Homo sapiens: one gene and its partner. The protein of the gene in region 1 interacts with the protein of each later gene in a biochemical or structural test. Each region holds a gene or a part of one and is shown on either strand. Other genes may lie near its edges. The genes, in order: SLC9A2 and RASA1.

The links.
Region 2: the proteins of SLC9A2 (region 1) and RASA1 form a complex in vitro, tested with the Homo sapiens proteins (one study listed by BioGRID).

Annotation. Positions count from the first base shown.
Region 1 is NC_000002.12:102,699,462-102,703,294, forward strand, and holds part of SLC9A2 (sodium/hydrogen exchanger 2 precursor), read left to right. Parts: intron 1-1,608; coding exon 1,609-1,770; intron 1,771-2,944; coding exon 2,945-3,041; exon of another isoform or gene 3,042-3,266; intron 3,267-3,833.
Region 2 is NC_000005.10:87,368,835-87,372,667, forward strand, and holds part of RASA1 (ras GTPase-activating protein 1), read left to right. Parts: intron 1-978; coding exon 979-1,066; intron 1,067-3,283; coding exon 3,284-3,361; intron 3,362-3,833. UniProt on the Homo sapiens protein: Inhibitory regulator of the Ras-cyclic AMP pathway. Stimulates the GTPase of normal but not oncogenic Ras p21; this stimulation may be further increased in the presence of NCK1.

The DNA of each region.
Region 1 (3,833 bases):
CGGGAGCACTTGGGCTTCTGTAGGAATGCAATGGTGGAAGCAGGAATGCCAATTTGGTGCTCACTACAAGAATCCGAGAGAGAATGATGTCTTGGACCTGGGTGATAGCATTAGATGAGGTGGGAGATGGCTGGATTTTGTATGTATTTTGATGTGGAACCAACAGAAATTGCTGATGGCGCAAAGATTTGGAGTACTAGTCTGCTAGGGCTGCCATAACCAAAGTACCACAGATTGAGTGGCTCAACAGAAATGAATTGTCTCATAATCCTGGGGGCTAGAAGTCAGACAGCAAGGTGTCAGCAGGGCTCATTTCTTCTGAGGGCCACGAGGGAAGGTTCTGTTCTACGCCCCTCTGCTTGGCTTGTAGATGGCTGTCTTCTCCCTGCCTCTTCACATCATCTTCCCTCTCTCTGTATGTTTTGGAATCCAAACCTCTTCTTTTTATAAGTACACCAGTCATTTTGGATTTGGGCCCATTTTGATGGCCTCAACTTAATCACTTCTGTAAACACTAGATCTTCAAATGTGGTCATAGTCTGAGCTACTGGGGATTAGACTTTAACATATGAATTTTTGGCGGGACACAATTCAGCCCATAACATAGAACATGAGAAAAGTAGAAGAATCCAGGATGACACCAGGATTTTTGACCTGGTGGAGTCATCGTTTGCTGAGATGGGAGGACTCTGGCAGAATATCAGTTCAGTTTGAATATGTTAAATTTGGGATGCCCCATAGATATCCAACTGCAGATGTTGAGTAAGTAGCCAAAAGCTCATATCTGGGGTTTGGCCGAGAGGTTGGAGCTGGAGATACAAATCTGGGGGTCATTGGCATAGAGATGCTATTAAAAGCTAGGAGACTGGGCAAGATGGTGACGGGAGTGAGTGGCGGTATGAAAGAGGATTAAGAACCGAGGCCCAGAGCACTCCTACATTAACAGGTCAAAAGAAGAAAACAAAACTGAGAGGGAGGGTGAGAAGGAGGTTGGGGTACCCCAGGGTGGTGTCCTGGAAGCCAAATGAAGACAATAGTTTACACAAGTGAGGGCAGGAAAGATGAGGATTCATAATTGCCCACTGCAGTTATATCATGAGGTTCACAGACCACTTTGATAAGAGTAGCTTTAATGGAGTATTGAGGCAATGTGAATGTTCAAGAGAGAATCAGAGGAGAGGAATTGGGGAAAACAAACAGTGATAACGTTTCTGAGCAATTTCGCTAAAAGCAGAAGTAGAGAAATGGTAAAGACAGAAACATGTATTTTAATCTGTAATTAATGAATACTAGATTTATGTGCATCAGGGTCATATACAAAAATGTAGCAGTATGTGTCATATATACATATATGTGTATGTGTATGTATATATACATATGTATACATACACATACATATACATACGCATACACATATATACATATATACACATACACATATACATATATACAGGTAGGCACATACTAAATATATAAAATGACCAGATTAGCTAAATGCTGCTACTAAGTATTTTCCTGGGAATGGCAGAAATGACTTCATTGGTAAAAACAACAACTATTTTCTTAGTCAATCCAGTATTAATTTATTGAAAGTTTCTTTATTTACAGGTTTAAGAAGTTTGATGATAAATATCTGCGGAAGCTTTTGATTCGGGAAAACCAACCAAAGTCAAGTATTGTATCTTTATATAAAAAGCTTGAAATAAAACATGCCATTGAGATGGCAGAGACTGGGATGATAAGTACTGTCCCTACATTTGCATCTCTAAAGTAAGTATGGTCTTGCAAATAAAAGTTAGTATTGTTAAATAGGCATTGATAGTATTTTGAAACTGGTAATAATAATTTTAAAAAAATTATTATTAATTGATCCGCCCCCCTCGGCCTCCCAGAGTGCTGGGATTACAGGCATGAGCCACTGTGCCCAGCTGCAAATACTGAATCATTTTTCTATGGGGACATAAAGGTTAGGTTCCTTTGAGCCTGTGGTCACAAAATTTTCATCAGCCAATCAATATGTAACCTATTTTATGTATGTTTATGTTTACAGACACCTTATTTAATATATATTGCTAATTCATTAACATTGAATTGATGGTCAAGAACACTATAAATTCATGTATGATCAAGCTTAGTTAACAAATTTTCTCCATAAGGCACATCACAGGGTTCTTGTGCTTGGGAACTCTAGACAGCACTTCAGCAATGCCTGGGGGCCATTTAAAGCAGCAGAACCACCAATAAATAACATAAAAATATTAAAAAATCATGTCACTAAATAGACTGTGAGAAGGACATTATTTATAGTATGAGAGTGGAAACAAGAAAGCAGATGTCTCCTTGTTCAACATCTTCAGGGAAACTGTGTCAAGTGACTCAAATTTTTTGTCACTCTCCATATGTCTGAGAATAACTGCAAAAATACTGAAATTCTGATATTGGGTTTATAAATCAATATTAGCAAGTAGGTGAGGTGAGTTCATGATTATGGAACCCACAAATGAGGATTGACTGGATATACATACATGTTATAAATGGTGTGTTTGCAAATATTTATGATGAGGTTTTTAAAATATGAAAACTTAATGGTAAATTGAAGTCAATTAGGTTTCTGTTGGAGAAAACTATTCTATTTTACTTTATTTATGGAGTGTTAGAAATAATAAAGTGAGGTAGCATTATAAGCCATTGTAGTTTTTCTTCCCTGAAAACATAATGACATGAATAGATTCTGAAAACTTGTGAATTGTTAAACTTGCCATGAATGATTTTGAAACTGAAATAAGAGTCACAGAATTTGGAATTATTTTAAGTTATTGAATAATCCCTAAGTGCTATTTTTACAAATTAAGACTTGTCTTAAATACTTATATCTCTAAGGAAGAAAATCAATGATTCTAATATTTGTTGAAAGGTAAAATATTCTTTTTCTAAACTTTCACAGTGATTGTCGTGAAGAAAAAATAAGGAAGGTCACGTCCAGTGAAACTGATGAAATTCGAGAACTCTTATCAAGAAATCTCTATCAAATCCGTCAGCGAGTAAGAATAATTTATGTAGCAAAATATTTACTTACCTTTGGCTAACAGGATGCCTTCTGGTTTTGTGCTGTAACTGGAGGCTGCATCTTGACACTGGGCTCAGCAGGTCCCATGCTGGGCATCTTCTCTCCTTCTGCTTCTCTCCATCCCTCTTCAGGGTCCTACTATCCTCCTGGACACCATGGCTGAAGCCTTGGGGTCCCCTGGGAGTTCTGCTGCTGTGGGCTTGGATACAAAGAAATACACGTTGACTAATTTTAAAGAAATGAATTGATTGCTGTTTGTTTTAAAGAAATAGTTTTATAGCTTAGACTTTAAAAATGGACCTCACCCTCCTTGTTATTTATAAAGTGCTATAGTTTCTTCTCTTCTGAGCCACTTCTTTCACTTCGTTTCCATTGTTAGCACCTTATTCTAATAATTTGCTAACAACACAGCTACAGAGTAGAGAGTGTCCTCAATTTTCCAAGCCCCATTTCAGTGTGTTGCATGCATTAACTCATTTAATCCTCCAGTGAGTGGTAGGTGTTACTGTTGTCGCCATTTCACAGATAAAGAAATTGAGGCACAGGGAGGTGAAGTGGCACACGGGCCACACAGCTTGTCAGGAGTCCTCCTTGCTCATGTGGGGGCTGTTTCAGCAGCTTCTTAGCTGGTGTCCCCATAAGGTGTCCCCATTTCATCCACGTGACTCTTACCTGACCCTTTTTCCTACAGTACCTTTTAATTTAAAATGAAACAAAACATTAGTTGTGGCTCCCAAGCTAAACTATTCGTTGAAAATTTGGACTC
Region 2 (3,833 bases), on another chromosome or scaffold:
TCCTCAAATCTTAGCTGCTTTGGTTGTTCTCCAGTGCTTTCAAACAGTTGTTTTTCTGTTTTGTATTACTATTTTAAGTTTTATCCAACTAGGGTGGTTAGTCTGATACAGGCAACATTTAGGATTAGAAGTTTCCAATTCCTATTTTCCATGATTACTTTTAAGACATTCTCAAAGCATGAAAATATAGTCTTTATCTTTAATAAGTGTTAAGCTTGTCCTCTGTGTATTTTTGCTATGGCCTCCTAACATTAGCATGATATAAAATCTTTAAAGCAGGAAACAGAAGTAACATTTATTGAGTTCCAAAAACATGCAGGCCCTTAATAAAGATTTTACCAATATTTTCAAGTCTAGTTGGAAAGATAGCACATTTCCAAAATGATATAAATTATTACCTAATATTGTACTTACATATCAAATGATTTGAAATAATACTAAAGGAAGACAAGAACATTTGTTGTACACAACTGTTCACTTAAACTCTAGAACAAGCATATGTATGAAGAGATGATGTTTCCATTTTAACAGGTGAAGAAAAATGATCAGTTTAGAAAAATTTGAAAATACAGAATCACCTACAATCTCCTTAGAGATAATTACTTAGAACATTTTTGGTCTAAGAACATTTCTAGTCTTTTTCCAGTGCATATAAAGCTTTTCAAATTAGCTGTGTGCAGTTCTAGCAGTTCAGCTTCAATCTGTTTGTAACTTTATTTCTAATGTATTTTACAATTAATTGAAATTTCTTTAGTTTACACTTTGAAATACTGATAACATTTTAATAGTGCTGACATAAAGTTTTCTAAAATATATATAGCTGACTTTTTTTTAGTAATGATCTGGTACAATGGAGTATTATTTCTTTAAGAATTATAATTTTATGTTAATTATTTATTGTGAGTGTTTTGGAAGCTGGTATAAATATTTTGCTACTTTTTATTAAGCTTCCTAATAATTTTTGTTTTTATTTTAAAGGCCAAACTGTTTTCAGATAGTAGTTCAGCACTTTAGTGAAGAACATTACATCTTTTACTTTGCAGGAGAAACTCCAGAACAAGCAGAGGTAAGATTACTGTTTCTCAAACTACAGTATACTTTTATGTTAGCCCATGTTTTCTTATTAACTGGAATAGAAAATGATCGCATTCAAGATAAAGTGACAGAACGCCTGAAATCTAATCATCTCTTATTTTAAGGAATGAGATTTCATATGTAAAAAGTTTTCTGAAAGAAATGCAAAAACAAACACAGTGAAGGGTTATTAGGAATGAAAACTCCATTTTAAATTGACCTTTAAATACTCTATGATGTTGAGGCCAACTGAGAATGCTCATTTAAAATCCTCTCTGCATAAAGGTTATAGGTCATCTCAGTATAATCCAAAGGTAAGCCAGTTAACCAGTTAGTTTTGCTAACAAGCATTATTCTTCACTGGTTGAACTCCATGTCTGAAAATAAAAGTCAGTCAACACAAGGAAAGATATTTTAGGAATCTATTCTCTAAGCCAAGTCGAGATATAATGTCTACTTTAGATTAGCTATTAATCCATGTGCAGTGTCCTTCTTATAGCGTCTATTAAGTAATTGTGTGAAGAAATAATATTTTTTAAAAAACACTCTTTAAAAAATATTTTGCAACAAAGGGAGAACCCACCTCTATAACAAAAGTAAAAAATTAGCTAGGTGTTCTGGCTTATGCCTGTAGTCCCAGCCACTGGGTAGAATGAGGCAGGAAGATTGCATTAGCACAGGAGTTTGAGTTACAGTGAGTAAGATCGAGACACTGTAAGCCAGCCTAGGCAACAAACTGAGACACTGTCTCTTAAAAAATTTTTTTGCTTTCTTTGAACCCTAATATTTCTGGAGTATATGGTTGTATTTTATACAAATACAGCTAAATTTCTGCTTATATTCTAACGAAGGAACTTAAAGGTGGTTAAGAAGTGAAAGTGGCTTTGTTGGAAATATAATTTGCCAACCCTAGATATGAGGAAGATGCTCTTAAAACTAGATCCTAGCGTGAGACTCACAGAATAAACCTGAATGAGCTTACAACTGAACGTCATATTTCACATCTTTATCAAATATCTCATTTAATGCTCATTTCACATGTAATGCACATAAAATTTTACGGCTATGTATCCCTAATTTTTAGATGAGAAAGGTAGTGCTCAAAACATTTTGGTAACTTACATGATTTTTTTAAATGTTAGAAATTGAGTTAGAAATTTAAACTTCAGTATCCTATTTTCTAAGTATTTTACCATGGTCCCTCTTTCTGAATAAAATGTCACATACCATAATGACATTTCAGCATGTTTTGCAAGCCTAACATAGAACATTTTTTAATGTATTTATACATAATATTTCTGTATTTCCATAAATGGTATTTCCAGTTTTTGTTGATTTATTGGGCTGTGGGGGTCTCTGGTTATTCTCTTCTATTTCAAAAAGCTATGGTAACTGATTTGGTTTTAATTTGCTGTAATATAAAGACAGTCTCTAGATATTAATAAAGTTCAGCTTCATTGAAATAGCCAACAAACTAAAGACATAATTGAATAAAGCAATAGTACACAGCTTTCCAGAAATATGTAAAAACCAAAGTGAATATTTAGATTTGTTTTTAATAAACCTTAGTTCTCTCCTTTTCCCCAAAGCACTAGATAAACATTTTAAAAATATGGCTGCAATTTGATTTGAATATTAGGCTAAAATGATTTTTAAAATCTAATGTTATATTTGAGAAGCTTAAAAATAACCCAAATCCCCTTATACATTTCTACCTGTATCATGGTCTAAAGTATAGATTAATATGCTTGTCATGGGATCGGTCATCACATTATCAGTTGGTTTTACAATCAGCACTCTCCCCCTCTCACAAAGTGTATCAAGTTAAATTCCACCTAAGCTTGCCTCAAGTATAACAGCTTAATTATACAGTTAATTTCCCCAAGGTAGTATCTGTTTGGGAGAAATAGTTTCTTTAATGTAAATTTGATTTTTTGGCTAATTAATGGCCACTCGATGTGTTTCATACATAAATTCAAACAAAGATTTATACAGAATTACAATTGTTTTGGTTGTTTTATTATTGTTATTGTTATGTTATTGTTATTTTATTATTGGTTATTGTTATGAAGTACAGTATAGTCTGAGAATAGAAATGGCAGTCTAGAGAAGGAAAAAATTGTTGAATTTGAAAAAAAAAACCTAACTGATGATTTGGAAGCCAAATAAACTAGTGTATATTTCTTTGAAGTGCTGTTTTTCTTTGCAGGATTGGATGAAAGGTCTGCAGGCATTTTGCAATTTACGGAAAAGTAGTCCAGGGACATCCAATAAACGCCTTCGTCAGGTGAAGCTTAATTTTCTTGGATTTTTAATTGTCACATTTTGCTCTAACACTTTGCTCTTTTTATTTTATTTTTATCTGAACTGTTTTGGACATCATATGGGGTTAAGCCATGCTGCCACTTGCTTCAGTAGCAGGAAAACGTTACTTCTTTATGAAAGAGAATGTTCTTTCTTAGTCCATGCCAACTGTTAAAAACATAAGAAAGATTATTCTTCCACTTTAAATAACAACACTAAACCAACACAGCAGAAACGGTTCTGTTGGGCACTTAATTTTCCTTCAAAAACTTATTTTGGCCTCTTTCAAAAAAGTAGAACATTGAAAAGATCATCAGATTTATAGCACTAATCCCAATAAACTTTTTTGGGATTTTCATTTTGAAGAACAGCTTTTAAAACCTACTGCTTAACTCTTAGGAAATATTTAATCTTATTTGAAACTGTAACATGCCCTATACTTTGAGATTTGTGGA